Linked DNA regions of Homo sapiens: all the other regions are linked to region 2. Evidence: fine-mapped expression QTL. A gene starts in region 2. Each other region holds a variant in brackets. All regions are shown on one strand. Distances are between the middles of the regions.

Region 1 (8,000 bases), 240 kb before region 2:
TAAAGTAACTGTTAGCACCTTGTGACTACACTAGAGAAGCACAGAAAAATGTACAGTCCCCAGGGAGTCTTTCCTAAAGACCCCCTCAGGTGCAGCCAGAAAGAATAATGCTCAGAAGAAGTACCATAAAGGTCAGATGGGGAAAATAAGCAATGGTGACTCAACTGGAAAGGTTCAAGCCAACCAATGTCTGCTCCTTACTATTCTTGTCCATGCATATATTATTTTCTTCAACCAGTAACAGATATATGGGGATTCCACTGTAACCCTATCCTACGTGGGAATTTTTATAGCTGTTTTCTTGTTTTTCTCAACATTGTTGTATAATGCATGTCTGAGATGTGGTTAAACATATAGATTTTGTTCATATATTGCAAGGTAATGAGCAACATATGAGCAAATAATTAAAAGGAATGCACATCCCAGAGATACTATAAACTTGGTTCTGGTTGCAATAGTTGGATATGACTTTAAGTTTTCTACTACTTGGAAGAGGATGAATGCATGTGTGATACTTGAATTATGTTAAATAGAACGACTCTTGTAATTTTTTGTATGGGAAGAATGTATTGTACATTGGACAAAGAAGCTCTTGACTACAATTATTGCGTTTTTTCCTGGCTCAGGTCTTCTACCACACAGATAGACATGTGATCCAAAATGAGATAATTAATGCTCCTTATCCTATCTGTCATAGGGATGAGTCTAATGTTAGCCACATAACTTAAGCTCGGCCATTCAGAGTCATTGCCCCTAGTTTTTCTGATGGGGCTAACTAGGTATATGGTATCTCTTGGAGCCATGGAGATGAAGAATTAAAAGCAACTTAGAAGCAGAGATAAAAACCCTAGGATTCCTAGGGTTATGATGTCCTCAGTTTTAGCTCTTTACATCTATAGATATATTCTGGTTTTGCCATTCTTTTCTTTAATTTTGTGAAGTATCATAGAGTTTTGTTAATAAATTGTTTGTTTTGGTTTGCTGGAACTTAGTTGTGGCTGCTTGAAGAAGTCAAACCAATAGATAACTTTACATATGTACCTCAATCCACTAACCTTTTAAAGTAGCTACTATTATTATTATTATCTGAAAAACAGATACAAAAATTGATACTAAACAAGGTTAGGTAATTTTTCAGTCACTTAGCTCAGAAGTTTTAGAACTGGGATTGGAAATTCAGTCTGAGGCTATAATCAGAGTGCATTCTCTTTTCCTTGCATCACCTTGCCTTCTGAAGATGATTAGCAGTTAGTGAGGTAGAGAAAGCAAGCAGCCTGCATGTGTTCCAGGTCAGAAGAGCATGCTCATGTCCTATACTGGAAACTGGAAGTAGCACTCAGGGAAGAAAATACAGTGTACTGGTAGAGCCAGCTGTAATAATTGCTTATGAGAACAATATTAAAGAACAAAATCAAGGGATAAATAGGCTATATTTATGCCTTAGAAAAGCAAGTCTGGCAGCTGCTGTGGGAATAATGCATTAGAAGAATCCAACAGTGTAAGCAAGAAGACCGGATAGGAAACTTCTGTGATCACACGGACAAGGAATAATGGGGTCTTAATAAGGTGGCAAGTGATGGAGAGGACAGAGCCAAAGTCAATAAACTAATTACCAGGAGCACAATCACTGGGTAGAAAATGTATTAGGAAAAGAAACAAATCAGGAAAGACTTCCATATTTTAATTAGAGCATGTGTATAGCTAATAGTGACATTTGCTAAACATGGAAATATAAGCAGAATTGCGAGTTTAGGGTGAAGAAAAGATGAGTTCAATTTTGCACATTTGATTATAGGATATCAAATGGGAAACACTAGCAAGCACATAGCTAATTCTGGAGTTCCGGAAAATTGTCTCAGGCTTCAGAGAGAGAAATGGACGCCGTTAGTTCCCTTTTGGGGTAAACATAGGTCTTAGGTCTATGTTTTTCTATAACCAAAAGTTAATTATTTAATTATTGACAAAAACTGAGACAGGAATTTAGAGTAGCAGGGATCAGGCAGTGATTCCTAAGAGTCAGTGGCAAAATAACTATCCCAGCATGGGGTACAGCTTAACACATTCAAATCTTGTTGTTTGTTGTTGTTTTTCTCATGAGTTACGGGAGTGAGGAAATTAACACACAAGTTGGAAGGAGTGAGTTGGTGAGCAGGGTGAGAAAGGAACCTGGTATAATATTTCACAGCTAGGAAGAGAAAGAGGAATCAATGAAAAATTCTCAGAAAGGGCAACCAGACATTTAGAAGAAAGAAAATGAGGATATCTGGAAAGAGGGGATAATGGTCTTCATCAGACGATGCAGAAAGTTCATGTACAAACAAAAATAAAATATGTCCTTTTGACTCAGTTTGTAGGAAATTGTTGTTAACCTCCATACAGACAAATTAGGAATGTTCAGTAAATGCTTAAAAATTCAATCACAATCAGCCGCAGCCACTTCAGTGGATCTCCATGGTCTCCCCTAGGTAGCATCTCCTCAATTCTACAAACACAACACTAAGTATCCTGAAAACAGAATTCAGACCTACGCACATGAATCGAAGGTGCTGTACAGTATCTCACAATGGAAGAGAAGGTAGGTCTTCTTTGCCTTCACCCACTAAAAATGACAGTAATTTTCCATCCACCGACCTCTTTCCTTCGTGAAATGTGTAACTGCTTGTCTGAAGCATACCAGACTCATCCGGCAAAATGTGGCAAATGGGAGAGCAGAGCACAGGGCTCAGCTTTTCAGTGCCTGGGTAAGACCAAAGCCTGGCTGGTTGTTTGATGTGTCCTAGTGCAGTCAAGTTTCTTACCCAACCAGGGACCTTTAACAAAGTGCTGAAGAAAGCAGCCATTCTACTAGCACACTAGCATTGTAAAACCAGCCCAAAGGGAGGGAAAGAAAACACTTTCATATGCTAACCTCATCCTGTTTTTTCCCCTTTTGTCTCTCCCTTTTAAAATTTCTCTCTGTACTGCAGAATTCATTTCTTTTAGACCTCTGAACACCAGGTGAACATGTCACACTGAGCACCACAGTGAAGTAGTGGTAGAGTGAAACCAACTCCTTTAACTTCCACTTATCATAGAGTGGCCGGGAGGTAAAAGAGCAAGTTCCTGAGAGATCTCTGTATGGAACTCACAGGAAG[G/A]TCTACTTGTATTTCAGTTCCCACAGGGCCTGGCTCAGGGTTACCTGAAAAATAAAACCCACTACAGCCAGCCATCACTGGAATTAACACAAAGAATCTTCCCTATCTGGAATGCTGTGCATGACTTACTGGGTATGGAGACATGGATTGTCCCTGAGCAGGGTGGTCAGAAAGTGCCTGAGGCAGTGAGAATCTTTGAGTGTATTATCACTGGTCACAGTAGATTTGTCCCTTTACCCCATAATACAATACAAAAACTATCAGCAGTTTATATTCTGTCATGTGGAAATGGCCATGTCTTACTTAAACAGCGAGTTTGGACAATTTAATAAGGGGCTTTGGAAAGTGAGATGGTTTGCAAGATACAGGGGGTTAAATCTTGAAAGATGGGATATCACCATTTGAATGGGCTGATGTCCCTGAGCTTTCTGCAGCTAGGATGGCAGGGGAAAGAAAATCCAAGACGGGAGGGGAGAAGGGCTGAGCTGCACTGTCCTCAAGTAGTAGAAGGGAGTTAGTCAATCAGATACGAAGAAAACCTTCTCTCATATTCACTGTCATGATTGCATTCTTTGTTGTGATATAGGAAGAATCACACAGAGAAAGCAAGCAAGCAAGAAAGAAAGAAAAAAAGAAAAAGAGAGAGAGAGGGAGGGAGGGAGGGAGAGAGAGAGGGAGGAAGGAAGGAAGGAAGGGAGAGGGAAGGGAGAGGGAAGGAAAGGGAAGGGAAGGGAAGGAAAGGAGGTTGGAAGGAAGGGAGGAAGGCTGGAAGGAAGGGAGGAAGGCACACTGGGTGGTGAAGAGTTTATCCTTGGAATAAAGTGGGCCTGGGTGAGAATTCCATTTCCGTCACTTACTTTTTGACAAGACCACTTCTGTTTTATTCATCCTTATATTCCTCATGTTTAGCACAGCATCTGGTACATAATGGAAACTAAATAAATATTTGTTCAATAAATGAAAGAAAAAAACTAAATGGGAGAAAGTAAGATAGAAAGAATTTACCATACATTGAGTCAGTTGATTAACATTTCATAATCTACGTTTCCTCATCTGCAAAATGAAAGCAAATATTGTACCTCGATAAGGTATGGCCAAGACGATTCAAGGAAACAGAATAAATACAATTGTTCTTATCATCACCAGTGTCTGGTCCATAAGACACATTCAATAAATGTTTGCTCCTATAGTGATTAGCAAAGCATTAGAAATACAGGGTCTTTCAGTTTACCAAATGGAAAACTTGATTAAAGTACTGGAACATGACCTGAAGAGTGCACATGATTTCACCACAAGGTTAAACAGCGGTAGGGTGTACTATTTACATACTCTCAGCACGTCAGCACTCCATGAATTTCTGCAAGTAATTGGAGATATTAAATCTATATCTATATGTGATTCTATATCTAGATAGATAGATAGATAGATAGATAGATAGATAGATAGATAGACAGACAGATAGATAGATAGATAGATATAAAATCTTACCTGGGAGGATAGTATCATAAGAAAGAATAAAATCCTTGGCTCTTTTGAACCAACTTAACTATTTTTCCAGGCTTTCACTTTGAAAGTGGGGAAAAATTTCTAACTTCAGGGACATATTCAATATTATTCAAAAGCCTAATAATAATAATAATAATAATAATAATTACCCATCGATTGCAATTTAGAATTAATCACTGGGTCAACATCTCTAGCTATGGGTCTATGGAAAGCATAAGAAAATGTTTTACAGTTCATTAGTTGTCAGTGACTAATATACACTGGAAGCATTATTACATTTAAAAGAAAAAATGGAAAAGATGAAGGTAAACTAGAATATCATGCAATCACAGAATCTCAGGGTTGAATGAGCCTCTAAAGCCATGTTTTCAAATGCCAGCTGGAACTTGAATCCTTGGAAGATGTATGTCAGTCTGAGGTATTTAAGAATGGATTTGGCTAATTTCAAATTCATAATGATCTCCAGTTCCATCCATGCTACACAGAAAAACAGTTCTGAAGGAGTCTTCCCCTTCAGAGAGAGGATGGGGAGAGAGAGCAAGTGGTGAGAGAGACAGAGACAGAGACAGCACCAATCTGTGAGTCATGTTGCCGGGTCTAGGAAATGTTGTGAATTGTACAATCTTACAGCAGGGCTTAGGACTTGTGCCTTAATTTTCAGCACTTCCATTGAAGGGATGGGACTGAACAATTGACAACGCTTTAACTCATCTCTTCTGAGCTTTTTCTACTAGGTGAGACCCAGGCCAGCCATTTGCTAAGTTTCCCAGACTGTCCATCACTGGAAATTACACAATCTTTCCTAAGCATTGTAGCACCATTTATTTCTTCTTATCATTACAGCAAAATGCCACAGTGATCTCACAACATGGATTATGATAGAAACATAAAATATAGCAAATTAATTATTTATCATAACAATGTTGGATGACAAAGAAATAAAAATAGGCTGTCCTCATCCAAAAGCAATTTAAAAACTCTAACGTAGAGTCAGGCAAAGGCTCCCCTGACCTACTACCGGCTTTGTAAAATGTATTCTTTCAAAGCATTTTCTTCTTTTTTTCAATGCACAGATATTCCCTGCTGTTGGATAATAAAGTCAGCCCACATAGAGCCTCCCTTTGTTACAGGAGGCATTTCATTTAAAGGGCCTTTTGGCAATCAGGAATACAGTTGTAATGAGAATCTCTGAACTGGGAAGCTAACACAAAGTCAATTCTTTTTTTTCCTCATGTAAACTTATGGCTCTATCTGGTCCCTATGAAATAGATGATAAATGCTATTTTAAGAGTAGAAAATATCAAGAATCAGAGAAGGAGGAAACTTTATCATGTTCACAAGATAAAGCAAAGGGAATTGAAAACTGGCTTGAGAGTTGCGGATTTCCTTTCCAGACTCTTGGTAGTAGAAGAATCTAAGTGAATCAGGAGAATCACTGGTAAAGCAAAACGTATCCATAAATTAGACTGTAATGGACTATGCACTGTATGGCATGATGGTGTTTAAAAACAAATTATGTCAGAGCAATTCAAAGTAAGCAACATGATAGGCTAATATGATTGAACATTGAAAAAGACTTCAGAAAAAGCAAGATTTAGGTTGGAATTTGCAAAAGGGGTAGAACTGGAATAGTTGGAGCAGAATTGGGTAGGATATTTTTGGAGAAGATCAGCTTAATTAAAAACTAATTATTATGACCTAAATACAGAACAAAATGGTATATCATTTATAATATGGACAATATGAAAAGAGAATCTTAAATGAGAAAACATGGAATAGGTACATGTTACATGGAGGACTCTATCAGGTAATAGTCAAAATCATCTCTTTTCTAAATAAGTGCCTTTGATTATGGGACCACGTATTAGTCACATGGTTTTTCTAGGTCCTGACACCATGCTTGTTTCATCATTTTAGTTCAGTTGTAATCTGGTTGATTGGCTGATTCCCTGAATACATGTCTGAATAGCCTATGAAAACAACCTTGAAAAGAGTGAACTTATTTTCAAAAGTCAATTTACTACATTTTCTTCAGGACTATATTCATTAGGCCATTTGTACTTTACACTTATGAAGAATTATTTCACTATATTCGTAGGTCTCCTAAACATCAGGTTGTACTAACCTTTTAACACGTTTTTATTCAATTGAAAACATTGTACAGAGTGAAGAGATGCACAATTAGCTTTTAAAGAAGAAAGGCAAAATACTGAATTCTTAAAAAGTAGGAATCTAGGGAATAAATTACACTTCTAAGACAGAAGGAACAATGTGAAACCAGAGTGGTGAGAGAACCTATTATTGCCATCTACTCTCAAAGCTCTTAAAAAAATACAGGACCCAGTCTTATAAGATCAGATAATGTTGTTTTGATAATAAACACATTCAGAAAGTGAGAAAATGGCTCTGTAGTTTAGAGTGATTACAAAATCATAAACATCATGAAATAACGTTGCATGAGTTTCCCATAAGGGACATCACTAGCAGGAACATGAAAAGTTTTTATTAATACCTGCGTATTAGCACTCTCTCTTATTTTAAATTTAGATGCTCTCCATCATATCTTTAGCCTAGACACTGACGTTACAGTATTTAGAAACTTTACTGAAATAGATAAGCCTCAAGAGACGATTCTATAAAAGTACAGATGTGCCAACAGAAGTGTTCGAGATAAGATTCTGCAAATTGATTTCCATCAATTACATCCTATTTTAAATATCCTAGGGGAAAATACCTGCGGAGAATCCTGTCATGACTTGCAGAATGGTTTCCTATATCCTGCACTTTGTCAACACATTTGAATACGGTGAGCTTATTTAGCTAGAGGTTTTCTATGCTGAAGCTCCAGTCCTTGCTCCATAAGGGTACTGTAGTAGAAGTTTGCCATCTCAATTCTTAAAAATTTTAAGACTGTATAATATTAGTTTGAAGCATTCTTGTAATCAGTGAGAAAGCCCTAAGGTGACATTTAATAAATCCTTCTCAAAAATGTATTCCAGCAGAAATATCTTCAATAAGTAATTTATGATAGATTATCTAAATTTCTCTTGTAGTTCTAATTATCAAAGGGATTATGAAAATTACCTAAGGACACACAACTTGCATGTGGGGCAGCTGTATGAGATTTCAGACCCTTATTCTTCCACATCAGGTTTTTCCTAGTACACAATAAAGATTTTTTTTCTACTTTCTTAGAAAGCTAACTGGGCAAAAAATACAGGCAACTCACCTCCTGGATTGCATCTCTAGCCTAAGAGTCCTCTAATATTTAGTTCTAAATAAATATTCTAATATAAACAAGAGGGGCCTAATGCATACCAGTTTGTGCCATTACAATAACAGCAGGGTCTTTTATAAAAC
Region 2 (8,317 bases):
AAAAGGATGAAGGATTTTCTCTACTCATTTTAGACACACGAGGATACTAGACTGATATTCAAATGTGAAAGAAATAAGAAAAAAATCTGCACATTTTAGAGGCAAAATTCTAAGTTTGCAATTCCACTAGCAAAAGAAGTAAACCAAGATCAGAGATTTAGCTGAAAGGTTTAATTTACTTTCAGTGCAGCCAAGAGAAGCCATAATGGTGAAGGAAAAACTCAAGTTTGCTACCCATGGTGGGGGACATTCTTCAGAAATCACGTTTATAATAACGCAAAGATCTGATCTCTATTTAGCATTCCCAGATACTTCCTAAAACTTTCCATTAAACATCTCAGAGTAAAAGATTTTTTTTAAAAGAATGTTGCTACCTTCACAGGAAGATTTGTAATCACATCAGGAAAAGCTTTCTTCCCTTACAAGCTCTGAAATGGAGGAAAGTTTTCAGAGTGAATTGCATTCAGCATTTCACCCAAAGTGATCTGAGAACACACTTGGCACCCCTATTTGACTCCCTTTTCTCTCCCTTACTGGTTTTGACGATAGGAACATACCTGCCAAAGTATGCCAGGAAAAGTGTGTCAGTAACTGTCTGAGCTAAAGAATGGCCAGAACGACCAAAGCAAGTGTCAAGCAACCTGAATACTCTTGATCATCTTGTTCCATTATAACTTCTCCCAATTTCCTCTTTTCCAACTCTGACACATCATGGCCACAAACAGCCTTCACTGGCAACAATTGCTGAATTTTACCCACTATAGACTTCATCACTTCTTGAACTTCAAGTGGAGGAGAACACACACACACACACACACACACACACACACACACACACACACACAGAGCTGTTTTTCCTCCTCCTGCACACTTTTGGCCTTTACAGCTATTTTAGCAATGCATTTCACTTTTGTTCATTCCCATTGCATTCTTTTTAGCCGTAGTTTAACTGTTGAGAGAAGAAACAGTCAGCATTTACTATACTGATGGGGGAAAAGTTCTCTAGAGGTTATTACACTGAGCTTTGGGAGAAAAGTCTCTAGAGGTTTTTGAATTTCTAAAATGGAGCAATATGCAAGTTATTTATTTCCAGATCCTCAAAGTGGGTTATCATTACCTGCAGGCCAACCAGATTCCATGAGGGAGGGTTACTTAAAATTATCTGATAGTAAATTGATAGTAAATTTAAGAGTGAGGAATAAAATTAACTTTAAACAACCATGCTTGAAACTAAAATTCTAATAGTTCAAAGAGTATTTTGAGCTCCAATGTCCCACAGCTTCCCAAAACCCTCTCATCTTAGAGTTTTTCTTTAGATTGTTATTGCATTTTGTTCATAGGCTAATGCATTACCTAAATATAGATAGCCATTTTTAGTATAAATTCAAAAAGCCATAAATGTTTCATAATTGAGCACATAATTTGAACTAAGAGAGATTTTCCACTCATCCCTTTTCACTATTGCAAATTGCAAAATACTCAAGTAATTACTCCCTTAATAGTTCAGTGCTTGCGACTATATATATTTTATGAACATCACAAGCATTTTTTTGCTCCCCAGAGCAATATTGGGAATGGGGTGCACAAAAGAATTTAACTTGTACAATTAACCAAATTACCCAGAGCTTTGATTCAAGATTCCTTCATTAAGCCATTAATATAATACATTGTTAAGTGGTGGGTTGTCCAATTTTTATGATACTTTTCATTTCAACTCAATGGCTGCAGTTAGAAGGAAAAAACAGCATCTGCAAGATCAGCAAGATGATGTAAAACCTCTACACTAGAAACATTTTTTTTTCTGTTCCACAGTTTGTTTGTGGGCAGCCAATGCCAGAGCACTAATAAAGGAAGTGATTTGAAGTCTCTGAAAGTAGTAGTCATTTATGCTTACTCAATAAAGAAAAGGGAAAATAAATGCTTGATTCCTGTGACCTCAGACTCTTAAACAGAAAGCCACTGGTTTTGTTATAGCATTCTAGACATACTTAGCAGTAGGCAGCCAGTTTGTAACTCTATCCCACTTTAGGCTTCAATACATATTTCCCACTAGAGCTTATATATCCCAATGTAGAGTGTCATGTATTTACTATTTTGGCTTTGTTCAGTGATATGCTTAGATAATTGATGTATGTGGGAAACTGATACACAGAGGAAAACTATACCAAAAGCTCAACATTTTTTATTTCTAAACTTAGATACAGCACAGAAAATCTAATGCTGAAAAAGATTCTCATATCTGTTATTAGAGGTGGTGTAAATTATCTGAATATGAGTTCTGCATGATTTCAGTTAACTCCCTATGTTTATGTATGATGGGAATCTAATTATGCATCATTTAATATACCCTGGAAACCCCATTGCTTTTAAAAGTCACTGCTAATAAATAGAGGAACATGTTTAGTTTATGGTTTATCTATCACTGAAACACTCTGGCAAACGGTAGGTAAATTCATGAAGAAGAGACATTGTTGAAAATTATATTCCTTTTGTAATTACAGTCTATGCAATATTATTAAAGGCCTGAGACATAAACCAAAACATAATATAAATCATAAAAAGTCAGGCTTATCAGGAATAGTAGCAAAAGGTATGCACTTGTATGTTAATGAGAGATTGCAGTAACTAAAGATGCCCTGTCAGGATATCACGTTTTTTGTTTTAGTTTTTTTTTTTTTTTCATAAAAGAGTTTCAGACGAATCCATCACTTTCCCTCAAGATGCAAAATATCCACATAGATAATAATACAATTCAAGTAAATGGCAAAATATAGTAAACTTTGATTGGAAGTCTGGTCGTTTATAAGCCTTCTTGGAAATAAGAGCATCCCGAATAAAAACAAAGAGAATGGTATAAGCATGACTTGAAACTAAAACAGAAGAGTGAAATTGTGAGTTTGTTCTTTACCTTTAACCATGTGCTGTCAGAAAAGCCTCAAATTTTAAACAACACCTGCATTGAAGAGTGTCTCCAATCATCTCACTGGTTTTGAGTTACATGGTGATATAAATAAAGACATGTGATTTTATACTCTCTCTCTAGTCTTTCATCCTCTCTCACTATAATCACTTTAGTATAACCACCAGTTCAATGCTCACAATGAAGGATGAGCTTTTTTTAAAAAAGGATAAGAGATCCAAAATTCATATGACAATGAAATCCTGTTATCAGATTTGTAGTCAATTTGATGCTATTTATTTCTAGCAGTTTGCAAATTCTTCCCCAGTTCTATCAAGAAAATTGGCATGGACTGGAAACTCTTCTAGACACTCACAAAACTTTCTTCTGGAAATATACCTCTGATAGATTCTCAGTAAAAAAAAAAAAAGTCATGAAGATGAAAGAAGTGTTCAGTGGAAACTATTCTTTCCAGTCTACACACACATGCAGAGCCAAATGCTTTATTGTGACTCAACCTTCAATTCAAACTCAAATCAAGTAGGTATGTCCACTGTCAGTACCCCGATATATCAATGCCCATGTGTTAGGTAGATGAATGAAGACACATGTGCAGAAGCAGAGGGAAAAACCAGATCCTACCTTGATTGTTTTTGAGGGTTGACACTTGATGTGATGGGACACGCTGGCAGTTTGGTTCATGTTTCAGGACCCTGGACAGTGCACAATCCCAGGCGGAGTTCCAGAATGAACTAGAGATCAAGTCTCCTCTATTGGACTTCAGTAGGGGCTGCTGCTGTTGCTGCTGCCGCTGCTACTGCTGTTGCTTCTGCTGCTTCTGTTTCTGCTGCTTCCTCACTCCGGAGGCTGAAACGCTATCAGATTGGAGGAATCTGTATCTCACTTAGCCCTAAATAGAGCATTTACTTGGTTCATCAGTCTCAAAGCTCTTGGCAATATGCAATAGAAAGCCAAAAACGGTTTAAATTCACTTGCAGTGTACCTTTTCAGTATGGAGATGTGACAGCTCCACAGTACAGCCAATGATCCTGGCTCTCATTCCCCTTTCAAAGGGACGAAAACCAGAAAACATACAGAGATCAATTGCAGTCCTGCAGTTTAAAGGGGCACTCTCAACTCCTCTGTCTCTCCAGATTATAGTTTTTCCAGTGCAAAATATTTCTCTCTCTCTCTCTCCCTCTCCCCACCCCTAACCCAGTTTAAAAAAAAATCATAACATCCTCATTCTGTTACTAAATTTTATTCCTTCCTGGGTACTTCTTGCAATCAAAACACAAGTAAATGCTGTGGAAAAAAAAAAAAAAAGACTGTTGGCAGTTTCAGAATTTGGGGGTTTTATATCTATAGGTTGAAGGACTGATATTCCCTATGGATATTTTTAAAATTTAGCCATAACAGCCAGCCAAGAGACTGTCCTTTCTGTAAGGTGGCAGAAAGCTTAAGGTATATTTAAAAAGTTTTCAAATACAATAGTTATTGTAGTTTTTGGATATCGCACCAAAGCTAGACAATGTTTTTATTTTCAACCTTTATTTTTGACCATTGCTTTCCTTGAAGCCGTATTTTTTGAATGCCTGGGACAAACTGGTAGTTAGCTCATGCCAGTCTAACTCCCCAAATGGTCACCTCTCTGTCCCTAATGTCATTTTAGGCAAAATAAATTATAAATATTTGTAAATTAAGTTTTCCGAGTCACCAGTCCCCATTGTCACATCAACACTAACTAGAATAAATATATCCTGGTTGGAAATAAGATCCAGTAGTCTTGAGTAAATGCAGGACACTCTTTTCCAACTTTTGTTGCAAAGTGTTTGATGTTGAAAACCAACAGTATTTATTCATCAGAAATGTATCCTACTAATGAAATGCTAGGTTTATAAGATTGAACTAACGAACTACATTCAGGAGGCTTTTATGAACAGCCTAAAATATTACAGATAAACTTTAATGTGAAATGAAATAAATTAATGTTTGGTGAAATTAATTTATACATAATTATAAACACATATTTTCTCTTGTAAAACAGAAAAGGGATCTAAACATTCTGACAAAGTAGTCTGCACATGTTTGAGGATGGCTAAGTTTCAGAAGGTTATAGTTCTGAGTAGCAAAGTGGAGGTAAGGATGTGACAGAAGTAAGATCAGACTGTTTGCAGCCACAAAAGTTAATGGCAAGAGTATTGGAGAAATCAGGAGAATCATGGGAAAAGAGATGGAGCCAATAAGAACCAGGCAAAAGGCTGTGTGCAAGAATCTGGTGTAGCAATATCCAGGCATCATATTGAGCACAACCAGAGGCAGCCATAGGGCCAACAAATCTCATGATTTGAAGTTTACAATTCTAAATCACAAATGTGACTGGAATTTGTGGCTTATCTTGTATTTTGCTTGAATAGCATTGCTTTGAATAATTCATAAATCACAAAAAGAGTATATTAAAAATGTTTAAACATTTTGTATTCAACAATAATGAAAACAACACAGAAAATTTGCAGTATGCAGCTAAATCAATATTTAAAGGAAAATGTATATAATTAAGTACCTATACCAGAAATGCAGAAAAGCATAAAATTAATAATTAATAAGCTAATTATTCATATCAAAGAGTTGGAAAAAGAATGGCAAAATAAACTCAAATAAATTATAGGGGGGAAACAATAAAGAGAAGAGAAGAAAGTAATGAAGTAAAAAACATACAAAATACTCAATGAAAAAACCTATGAACATTTCATCAGGTGGTTTACAGTTTGATAATCTCTGAATAAATGAATGTTCTATACCAGTAGAATTGGCTTAATTCCTTTCTTAGATAGCACTTTGTACTAGGTATCTAAGAAACTTCCAAACTAAATTATCTGGGGAGCCCAGGGAGGGAGAGCAGTCCAAGAGTTCAGAGTATCCCATCCCCATCAAAGAACTGTACAGGATGGAAGGAGCCACTAGTACTTCAAGGAACCCTCTCCAGGCACATTGATAGAGACAGCATTTATATGCCTACCACAAAGAGGGTATGAGTTGCTGGATTTCTACAACTATAATCACATGAGACTTCACCCCTTTTCTACAATTTTTCAAAAAGGTTCTACCCCCACCTGGATGGCAGCAGGATCCAAGAAAGATATTGACACTACCATTTATAGGTAGGTGGCCAGAATCCACCTAAAATCTTTTCCCAAAGTTGCATTTTGAAAATAGAGAAAAATCACAGTAAGAGAAAAGAGTGCCTCGTATACACCATATGCTCCCTTTCCAGGCTCCACATTATATCAAACTCCAAGTTCCAAAGAAAAATCAAGTGTTCAGAGCAAAACATATGACCCAAATCTCATTTTGGATTTTGTTTTCCCTTTCTGTTATATTATCATTTCATGAATCAAGGAAATGAAAACCATAGTAATTTTTAAACATTTCTATTTAAAACATGTATAAATTGTTCATTATTTTGTAAAATCTGCTGTATCTTAATGTAGCCAATTGGAATGTACAACTAGAAGAAAATAGAGACCAAAGAAATTTAGACAAGTGCTAGAGAATTACAAATACCGCTTAATAAGGATAATTCATATACATTTCTTCTAATTGGGATATATTGGGCTCAATATGTTTAGAATGAAAACAGCTGCAAAATTGCATCACGGTTTGTCACATGGAAGTAGTTTTTTTTAAGGTTTAGATCTGCTGAAGAAACACTATACAGTAAATCATACTGAACTAGAAAATTTAGACAATTTAGTCCAAAGGACCAATTTCAAATGTAATCAACACTTATGATAACCGTATAAAAATATGTTGTTGTCAAACAGTTTGGGAAAAGTTAGGAGTGAGTCCCTTCCACCTTTCCCACAAAAAAAATTAAGATGGCTAACGCTTTCAGAAAATATAACCCACGATGTTCCTTGACCAGCTATCATTTGATCCGGGAAATAGAAATTTAGGATGGGGTTAATGAAAATATCCCATTAGAAAAAAAAAAAAGTCAAAGTGTCAGATGGATTCTACTACCAATTTCCGTCTCTTTGTTTCAAGTCCCATCTGCCCAAGCCCTAACTAGCTGGTCACAGTGATGACCTACAGATTGCAAAGTTAGGCAAGCCCAGGCCTCTAGTCAATAAGAATGGTATCTGAAAGGATATTGGGCTGTTTCCCTGATTTTTTTGAAATCTACTGTAGAAAATTCAAATCCCTCCATGACCATTGAGGGATCATCTCCTCATCTTAACACCTATCATCTGTGTTCTGGTCTTCTCATGACCCATCCACTGAGTCATTTGCATTTCCTACTAGAACTGGAATATGGTTTCTAATGGTTGGCTTTTTTGACTTGACCCTCACCTAACTCCTGCCTGCCACATCTTTCTTCATGATTGACCCCTGCTTGTAACACCTTCTATGCTTCAGATTGTTCCCGGGATTCACTCAAGTGGAAGTCTCTGGTCTAATTGTGGCTTCATGGTCTTCAAGAATTGATCTTTTCTGGAAACCACTTGCAGAGTCAGGATAGGCAAAGTTATGGTTCAATAACAAATAACCTCCAAGGTCGGGTGCAGTGGCCTACACTGATAATCCCAGCATTTTGAGAGGCTGAGACAAGTGGGTCACTTGAGGCCAGGAGTCTGAGAACAGCCTGGGCAACATGGCAAACCCCATCTCTACAAAAAAATACAAAAATTAGCCTGGCATGGTGGTGCACACCTGTAATCCCAGCTATTCGGGAGGCTGAGGCATGAGAGTTGCTTGAACCCCAGAGGCGGAGGTTGCAGTGAGCTGAGATTGTGCCACTGCACTACAGCCTGAATGACAGAGGGAGACTCTATCTCAAAAAATAAAAATAAATAAATAAATACATTTATAAGTAATCTCTAAATCCCAGTGGTTTAAAATAATGAAGGTTTCTTTCTCATTATACAGCATGCCAATACCTGGTTGGCACGGGAGGAAGAGCACGTGAGGCTCTTTCAATCTTAGGGATCCAGGCTGATAAAGGCCCCATCTTAATACAAGCTTTCACAATCAACAAGGCAGAAGGAAAGAAACATGAAAAATCATGCTCTTATTTAAAGGCTTATGCCCAGCAAAGACACAAAACACTTCTACTTACATTCCATTGGCTAAAGCCACTCTCATGGCTACATTCAAGTTTAGGTAACAAGAAAGTGACGTGCAGCATGCACCCAAGTAGCAGTAAAATCAGAATAGCATTCTGAGTAACCCTAATGATAGCCATAACCCTACTGCTGCTTATTTTTCATATGCAGAGATATATGCCTATCTCTGCCATCCAACCTTAAGATGCCAACATGCTTATATTTAATGGTCCATAGACTGTGACAAGTTAATTTCAAAGCTACTTCAGGTAAATATAAGACAGAACTTCTTTATCCTATGTGTCTTGTTATC
Region 3 (8,000 bases), 330 kb before region 2:
ACTCAGTCTATCTGTAAGTGTCATCCCTTAATATTGCTTAAAGATGATAATGATTAGGGTAATGAATGATAATGATGATGCTAATACCTATAATAACATTTCATTTATAGCCCTTCTTAGTAATGTATTTATTTAATTGTCTCACTCTTTCTTGGACATGTTTAAGATGATTGCTATTATTCCCATTTTAAAGGTCTTGAAACTGAAATCCAGAATGTCAGCTAACTAATGAAAGACACGACAAATTCAAATTTAGATCTTCAGATTATTGACCCTAAAGTCCATGCTTTACCACTACCCTACAATTATTTAAGCAGAACCTGTCATAAAATTGCGGATATGAGTCTAACTTAAAGAACAGTGAACTCTTTGACTATGTAACTTCATAGAACTTACTATAAAGCATCTTGGTTCTGCGGCTCAAAGGATTTCTGTTTAATGATGTCATTACCATATAGCCAGGACATAACACTGCATTTAAGAGATGTAAAGTAGTCATTTAAACATTTACTGCTTTGGGCTTCATATCTATTACTGATAGAAGCTTTGAGATGAGGATTTAAATACTACTTTATATTTATTTCTTAAGCTCAGCCACAAAGCATTTTCACACGAGACATTCAGCAACTCTGAAAGGGCTACTTCTTCCCAGCCATTTGCATTTGGTCAAACTTCCTTCTTTCCTTGCTGTTTATGACTGTAACAAGTGGCATAATATGAAGGACTGAAATAGGGAGGTTGCCAACTTTTCAAAACTTTTTCTGGAAGAAATATAATTTAGTAGGAATAATATATCCAAAAGTAATACTCAAAAAAGGGCCCTGAAAACCCTCTTCAGAAATGTATGTGGGTAATATATTTCTAAGGATTGTGATTTGTACAGTGCAAAATCCATGGGCAGTTCAAAAAAGTTGGACCAGGAAGAAAGGAAGCCATTTCCAGCACAAGACAGTGTTTCCTAGGCTGCAGAATTATAAGGTTTGAATGTGACTTGTTGGTCTTCCTGTACTCTTTTCTTATTCTAAGAAGAGTTTCAAAAATAAATGAGAATATGGTTATAAAAAACAATAAAATATACCCATTCTCAAAGAGTACATTTCATTTACTTCTGAATAAAAGTCTTAACATATGTAAAGCCTGTATTAACTGCTTTTAGTCCAATAATTGCAACTATACACTATATAATGTATATATTATATAGTTATGTACTACATGGTTTATAAAACATTTTCATATATCTTTTTTATTTTTGAAAAAGTATGTTTGGCAGAAATTCTTATGCCTTCTTTTTTTTAATTATGAGAACACTGATCCTTAGAAAGTCTTTTTGGCTACCATTATCTTCTCTAATAATTTGATTTCCTTTTCAAAACTCACACTGCTCAGAGAGGTGTCTCCACTCATCCCCTTTTCCAATACTCATCAATTCAATACTCATCAATTCTTATAATCTGCACTAACTTTATTTAATTTAAATCACTACAACTTGAATATGTGACTTTAAAAATTACTCTAATGTAATTTATCCAACAAATTTTTTGATCTTTTTTTAATGTAGTGTTTGTCAGCTCCCACCATAGATGACTTCAAGCTGCCAAAAATTTAACAAATGGCTCAAAAAATGTTGTACATTTAACAATATTTCTTTTGAGCCTATAAAAGCCAAATTCATCACACTACTGGCAGTGTTCACTCAGATCTAGCGCTAGCTCCTAAGGAGCTTATGGCCTGATAACGGAGATTGCATTCAGTAGAGAAAAGCTAGGAGTCTATTTTCTTTGACAAGGTCTTGGAAGCTCTGGAACCTTAGGTATGAATGTAACTGTTTTTTCCTTCTACATAAGCAGCAAAGGTCATTCAAGCAGAGGAGATAGTGTGTTCAAAGGCATGGATGCATGGAATGCCATGGCATCATTCTATATCCAATGTGCAGTGGGAAGGGCTGTCAGAAAAGAGAGTTCAGCAGGCCTCAGATCATGGAGGTTTGTTTGTGTTCTAATTGTTGTTCAATTGTTCACTCAATTGGATCAACTACATGACAACTAAGATGTATCTGCAGCTAATTTTACCTGTAACACTTTGTCTCTTTATTTTTATCTAGAGCTATATCTAAAAATCAGTGTATTTTCCCATCATATCTTCAAAACTCATTTTGTTTTTCACCATCTCTGGGAAGACATTCTTGACTTCTTCCATATTAACTCCTGCTATCTGCATCCAAGCACAGTGAACCTCCTCTGCTTCTGGGTCCTTCCCATGTGCCTCCATGAATGTATTACCAACATTGTAAGTATATTTGTTTAGATGTCTCTCTCTGTCACCCAAAGTGATAGTTCCTTGAGACGTAGGAGTGTCTTTTATTGTTTGTATTGCCAGAGGCTTGAACAGTACATGATTCATTGGAGATACTCAAGATATATTTATGCATTGTGTTGAATTAATAAGACACTTCTTGACTATAATTCAAAAGAATGAACAAAGAGTGGTGACATTCTAATTGTTGGGAATGTGAATGTTTCCTGACTCACCTTTCTGAAGCTGCTGCCATATACTAAGAAGTAATGAGTACAAAGAGTTCATGCTAACATTGCTTAGAGAATGCAAACTTTCTAGGCTTCCTCAGCCTGCTAGAACTTTCCCTCCAGCTGAGATCTACCTAGTTTAAGCCCAGTTTATACAAGATTTTGAGGAAGCTCAAAGAAGAAAGGATTTTCAGGATGCCCAGAAGTGGGACAAAAATGCTGACCCTTGAGTTGCTGTGCATGGCTTTAGTGTATTTCTGCACTTGGCAGCAATGTAAGTCTACCCCCACCAGCTATACTAACCACAAACTCCCTTTTAGAATCAGTGAAATTCAGAACTAGAAAGGGCTTTTAGACACCTACATTGGAAGATATCAACTTGAGTAGTATAACGACTTGCACTCTGGAGGTAGATTCTCCTGGGATATTGTACTTACTACTAAATCTTTCTTTGGACACTTTATGACCTTTAGCTATTAGCCTGCATCAAGTTGGGTTAACAGTAGTGACTACATTATTATTGTTAGGACTAATCAAGATTTTGCAGATATAATTCTTACCTTCTAATTGCATCTCTACCCATGCTCTTGTTGTAACACTGTATCATACAGAGTCAAGGGTGGGGACCAGGACCCAGATTGGCTGAGGTCAAATTCCATCTCTGCCACTTACTGGTTGGGTTATCTTAGATAAGTCACTTGATCTATCTGGATTTCAATTTTCTCATCGCTAAAATGTGAATAATAATAACTACCACTAAGAATTGCTTAGAGAATTATATGGTATGAAGAGTTTAAACAGGGTTCGTTCCATAATTAGTAAAGAGATAAAGTTGAAAGGCTTTGACCTAATGCTATTAGGTCAAAGACGTAACTGAATTTCATGCTTCACTTACCTCTATAAGGTTCCTGCTGTGTTTTCCTTATTCTTGTGAAGCTTTAGCCAACTAATGTTGTTGAATCATTGCTGTTGTTCATTCATTACCAATCCATTAATGCTCATCCCAGTGTAACTATAGAGTATATATATATATATACATCATTATTGATAATTATGGCAAATATAGTCATCTCTGTTTTGCAGTTAACTTCTGAACAGTGATACGCTCACAACTTTGAAACTATATTAAATATTTTATGAAAGTTTCTTACATTTTCTCCTGATTTTAAGATAGTGTTAAGGAGTAAATCTGCTTTCCTTAAAATAAAATTATTTGACTGTAACAGAGTCCCTCCAAATCTCCTACCTCATGATTCTATTTTATTCTCCAATAAGCAAGCCTGACTTAAGATTACTTTTTTTTTTGTCATAGGTCCAAATATGGCATTCTGTAACAAACGTGGTAACAAAAACCAAGCCCCAAAGACTCCACTTACTGCTGTGCATAGGTTGGTTATGGAATGTAGTGCATGAAGAGCATTTGCTTGCCTAAAAATTGTTCAGACTCACATTAGAGTGTCAATTTCATCATACATGTCTCTAAATCACTATAAAGTATGAGCTTCTTGAGGACAGAAATACTATTTATTCATCCCTGCATCCTCATCTCCTGGCACAGAATACAACCCACAGTGCATGTGTTGAATGAATACATATAAATATGTGATCGTTCTTAGCCATCAGGTTACTAGTATTCACTTTCTATTTCTATTCAAATACATATATATCAAATAAATATACATATATACATACACATACCTATATATCAAATAGAATATATACTTTTATATTTGATAAAGTTTAAAAGTTATACTTCAAAAGCTATAAATATATACTTTTTGATATCTATTTGAAATATCAAAAAGTATATATTTATTTTTTTGTTCACTAGCAGATAACTATTTAAAAAAGAAGCAATACAAAATAGAGACTGTATCTATATGAATCACTCTACAATTAATTGTATATGGATTTTAATATATTTTAGATCTAGCCTTTTTGTGGTTACTTTCAAGGGACCTTAGTAAGTTCAGATTCTTAAAATCACATCATGAGTCATCACTGCCTTCTTTATGGAAATGCAAAAGCCTTAGAAATGTGTTAAAAATGGAAAATGCTTGCTTTGGTTTTATATAATACCTTTCAATGTAAAGGACATTAATTTAAGTACCTGTTGTGCTTGGCTCCTTTGAGAGAAGTTGTGAGCAGGGCTTGTTTATTGAGTCTGCATTGTGTGTGAAACCCATTACATATGTTCATTTAAAAAGTCAGGCCTGTTGAGTTATAATTTGTATAAACTAAAAGTCCGTGATGAGTGTTCATTTAAAAAGTCAGGTCTGTTGAGTTATAATTTGTATAAACTAAAAGTCCGTGATGAGTGTTCATTTAAAAAGTCAGGCCTGCTGAGTTATAATTTGTATAAACTAAAAGTCCGTGATGAGTTTTGACAATGTAAATAGTTGTGTAACTACCATAACAATTAAGATAGACAAAAAGC[A/G]TATCACTCCTCGAATTTCCCTTGTGCCCCTTTTTAGTCAGTCTGCTGTTCCCACTACCAATCACTGGCAAATATGGATCTAATATTTTCCTAAGGTTTTGTCTTTTCAGTAATGTCACATAAAAGAAATAACACAGCATGTAGTCACTTTGCCTGGCTTCTTCTACCAGATGTTCTAATGTAATCATTACTAGACCTTATGAAGTAGGTTTTGTTATTTTCATTTTATAGATAAGAAAATGAAGGCTTTGAGAATTGAAGTGACCTACTCTCTCTAAGCCAGATTTTAATCCCCCAAATTTCATAAACTACAATAGGCTAAAGAAGATAATACTTTGGGGAAGATGTTGCTCAAATCTCATTACTTAAGTATCTGCTGGAACCCAGCTAATGCTGGCATGCTGGAACATAAATGGAAGCTCATTGAGTCAGCTCCATCTGGTTTCAGAATCTTGGCATCTAACTCAACATGTGCTTAAAAAAATCATGAAAGGAAACAATTCATGGTTAGCCACCAGGAGATGGTCCTAAGGCTCTGTTGACCCTACTTCTTAAACTGAGATTGAGTCAATACATTTATGCTTTAGCTGAAAAAAAAAAAAGGTATGAGGTGGAAATCTTAAGGAACACACATGAGATATGGAAAATTAATCCTCAAAGTACAATAATTACGGAGAAAGTTCCTATACTGTAAATGAGGATGACATAATTATTTACCAGCTTAGGTATGTGCATCCTTCTCTCTGTCTGATAAAGGCCTAAGTCAAATATGTTCTGTTTTGATTTTTAAAGAAAATAAAAAAGGTGGCTGGGTGCGGTGGCTCACACCTGTAATCCCAGCACTTTGGTAGGCCGAGTGGGTGGATCGCATGAGGTCAGGAGTTCGAGACCAGCCTGGTCAACATGGTGAGACCCCATCTCTACTAAAAATGCAAAACAATTAGCGAGGCATGGTGGTGCATACCTGTAGTCCCAGCTACTCGGTGGGCTGAGGCAGGAGAATAGCTTGAATCTGGGAGGCAGAGGTTGCAGTGAGCCGAGATTATGCCACTGCACTCCAGCCTGGAAAACACAGTGAGACTCTCTTTCCAAAAATAATAATATTAATAATAATATTAATAAATAAAATAAGGACATAAAGATTTAGAACTCTATACTATGAAAAAATAATTTTATGTATCTCAGCTCTTTTAGCAAAGACTATTAGGGTAATCCCATTATAATAAAATAACTGTGGAAAAAGATTATCTCAGGAGAAATTATTTAGACTCTAGAATGAAGAATTTTCTTCAATAATTAATTTTACTTGATACCTCTTACTGACCGTACCATACTGGCCTGAGAGTAAAGGGTGTTTCAAGACGTAATCTGCTTCCTTGGAAAAAAAAATCTAAAGTGTTTATTAAGTGTTTTACTATGTGTCCAGGCCGTGGGACTCCTATACTTTTTAAGAGTTGGAAACTTTTAATATTTTCTTAGCCTCAAATCAGACTGAGATTATGCATGACTATGGAAACATGCTACTCTTGGAAGTGTTGGAAGTGTTGAAAATCACATGCTCCCTTTTCCACTTCAACTTAGAAGTTCCAGTGATGTTGAACAAGTGAGTTTCCTCCCGGCTAAGACGGAGCCTCCTTCCTTCTATTCACCTATGGGTGCTATCACTAAAGATAGAAAGAGATCTTTATCTTTCTTGGTATCCAAACAATCGCCTTCACAAGATCGTTTGTGCTCTTTGAAGACGCAACCACATGCTAACTTTGCTTAGTCAAGTTTCTTATTCTTACAAGGATGGACTCCCTCAGGTAACAGGTGATGCTCGTTGCCGAATCAGGAAGCAGATGATGAATCTGGTTGGTAAAACAACGAGGGATGTTCAGGTGGCTTTGCTATGAGAGCAGTCCAGGTGAGGAAGGACATACTTCTTAGGTGTGACTGCTGTCTCCTGAGCACTGGTATGATACGGCCACAGTGAATAGCCCTGCAGTTGGGCTAATGGCTAATGTCTCCTGCAACCCAAATCTCAACTGAGACGATTTCAGAATGTAGCAAGTTGTCAGCTTCTTCTCAGTTAACACATAAAATGCATACAGCCAAATATCTGGCAAAAGTTCAAGAGTTCAATTTTCCTCAATTACTGATGCTTACAGGATTTTTCTTAACATATTCTAAATGAATTAGCTCTGAAGAATGACCCTGGCCATAATCACAGCACAGTGGGTAAGTGTTTAGACTTTTATATCAATTAAACATAACATTCATATCCAAAGTGTTTTAGTGTATCTGACAATAAAACCTTTTCCACCATTGCAGTCGTTTTTTCCCATTTGATTTTATAACCACATATTTCTTGCTGAAGGATATCAAGGAGATGTGGCCAAGACATAAAACTCATTTCAAAAATTTTGAGTATATGAGTAGTTCCTGGAATCCTGATTATTCCTTGTAGAGAAGGGACCTACAGATGAAAGAACAATAGCAAAAATTCTATAGCGGGACTCAAGGTATAAAAGAAATTCAGAGCTAAACAATGGCATTACTGTTCAAGGCCAAAATTATGCTTGATGTATAAGATTTTTCTACATTTTGTAGCCCATGTGCTCCCTCCACCCCAGTTATACAAATGTGCAAGTATCATGTCTTCCTTTAGTGTTTATTTGCTCTTTAAATATAAATTAAGCTCCTATAACTGAGATTACTAAATAAAGGAGAAAGCACATTTTTGGTTTTACGGCACGGTGCTATTTTTATTTTGCAAAAGTTGGGATCCATTCACTCTCTTACCACCATTGTGTGAATGTCCCCATTTCTCATGTTTCCATCTAGTTGAAGTATTACTACTAGCATGTATATGGATTCCTACAGTAATGTAAAAAAGTAATGTAATTCCTAAAAATAAATTAATAGTACCACAGTACTGTTGTTATTGTTCTTCTCTTCAATCATATAAATCCTCCCTTTTCGCTATTACTAGGAGCCTTCTAGAGGTATGAGGTCCCCTTAGCTAGCACTGAACCATGGAATTAGAACCCTGATCCCTC

Evidence for each region.
Region 1: its variant is fine-mapped to the expression of DPP10 in lung (TOPMed, PIP above 0.99).
Region 3: its variant is fine-mapped to the expression of DPP10 in lung (TOPMed, PIP 0.97).

What each region holds. Positions count from the first base shown.
Region 1 is chr2:114,679,356-114,687,355 of GRCh38, reverse strand. All of the region lies in intron 1 of DPP10 (dipeptidyl peptidase like 10), which reads right to left. Among named protein-coding and RNA genes, the nearest start is that of DPP10-AS3, 150 kb to the left of the region's middle. The variant G/A (reference allele first, on the strand shown) is at 3,135.
Region 2 is chr2:114,438,063-114,446,379 of GRCh38, reverse strand. DPP10 (dipeptidyl peptidase like 10) reads right to left here and starts at 3,739. Exons shown (of 26, transcript NM_020868.6): 1 at 3,542-3,739. The coding sequence starts at 3,601.
Region 3 is chr2:114,770,224-114,778,223 of GRCh38, reverse strand. The region is part of intron 1 of DPP10 (dipeptidyl peptidase like 10); the gene reads right to left. Among named protein-coding and RNA genes, the nearest start is that of DPP10-AS3, 59 kb to the left of the region's middle. RefSeq lists an enhancer at 7,927-8,000. The variant A/G (reference allele first, on the strand shown) is at 4,960.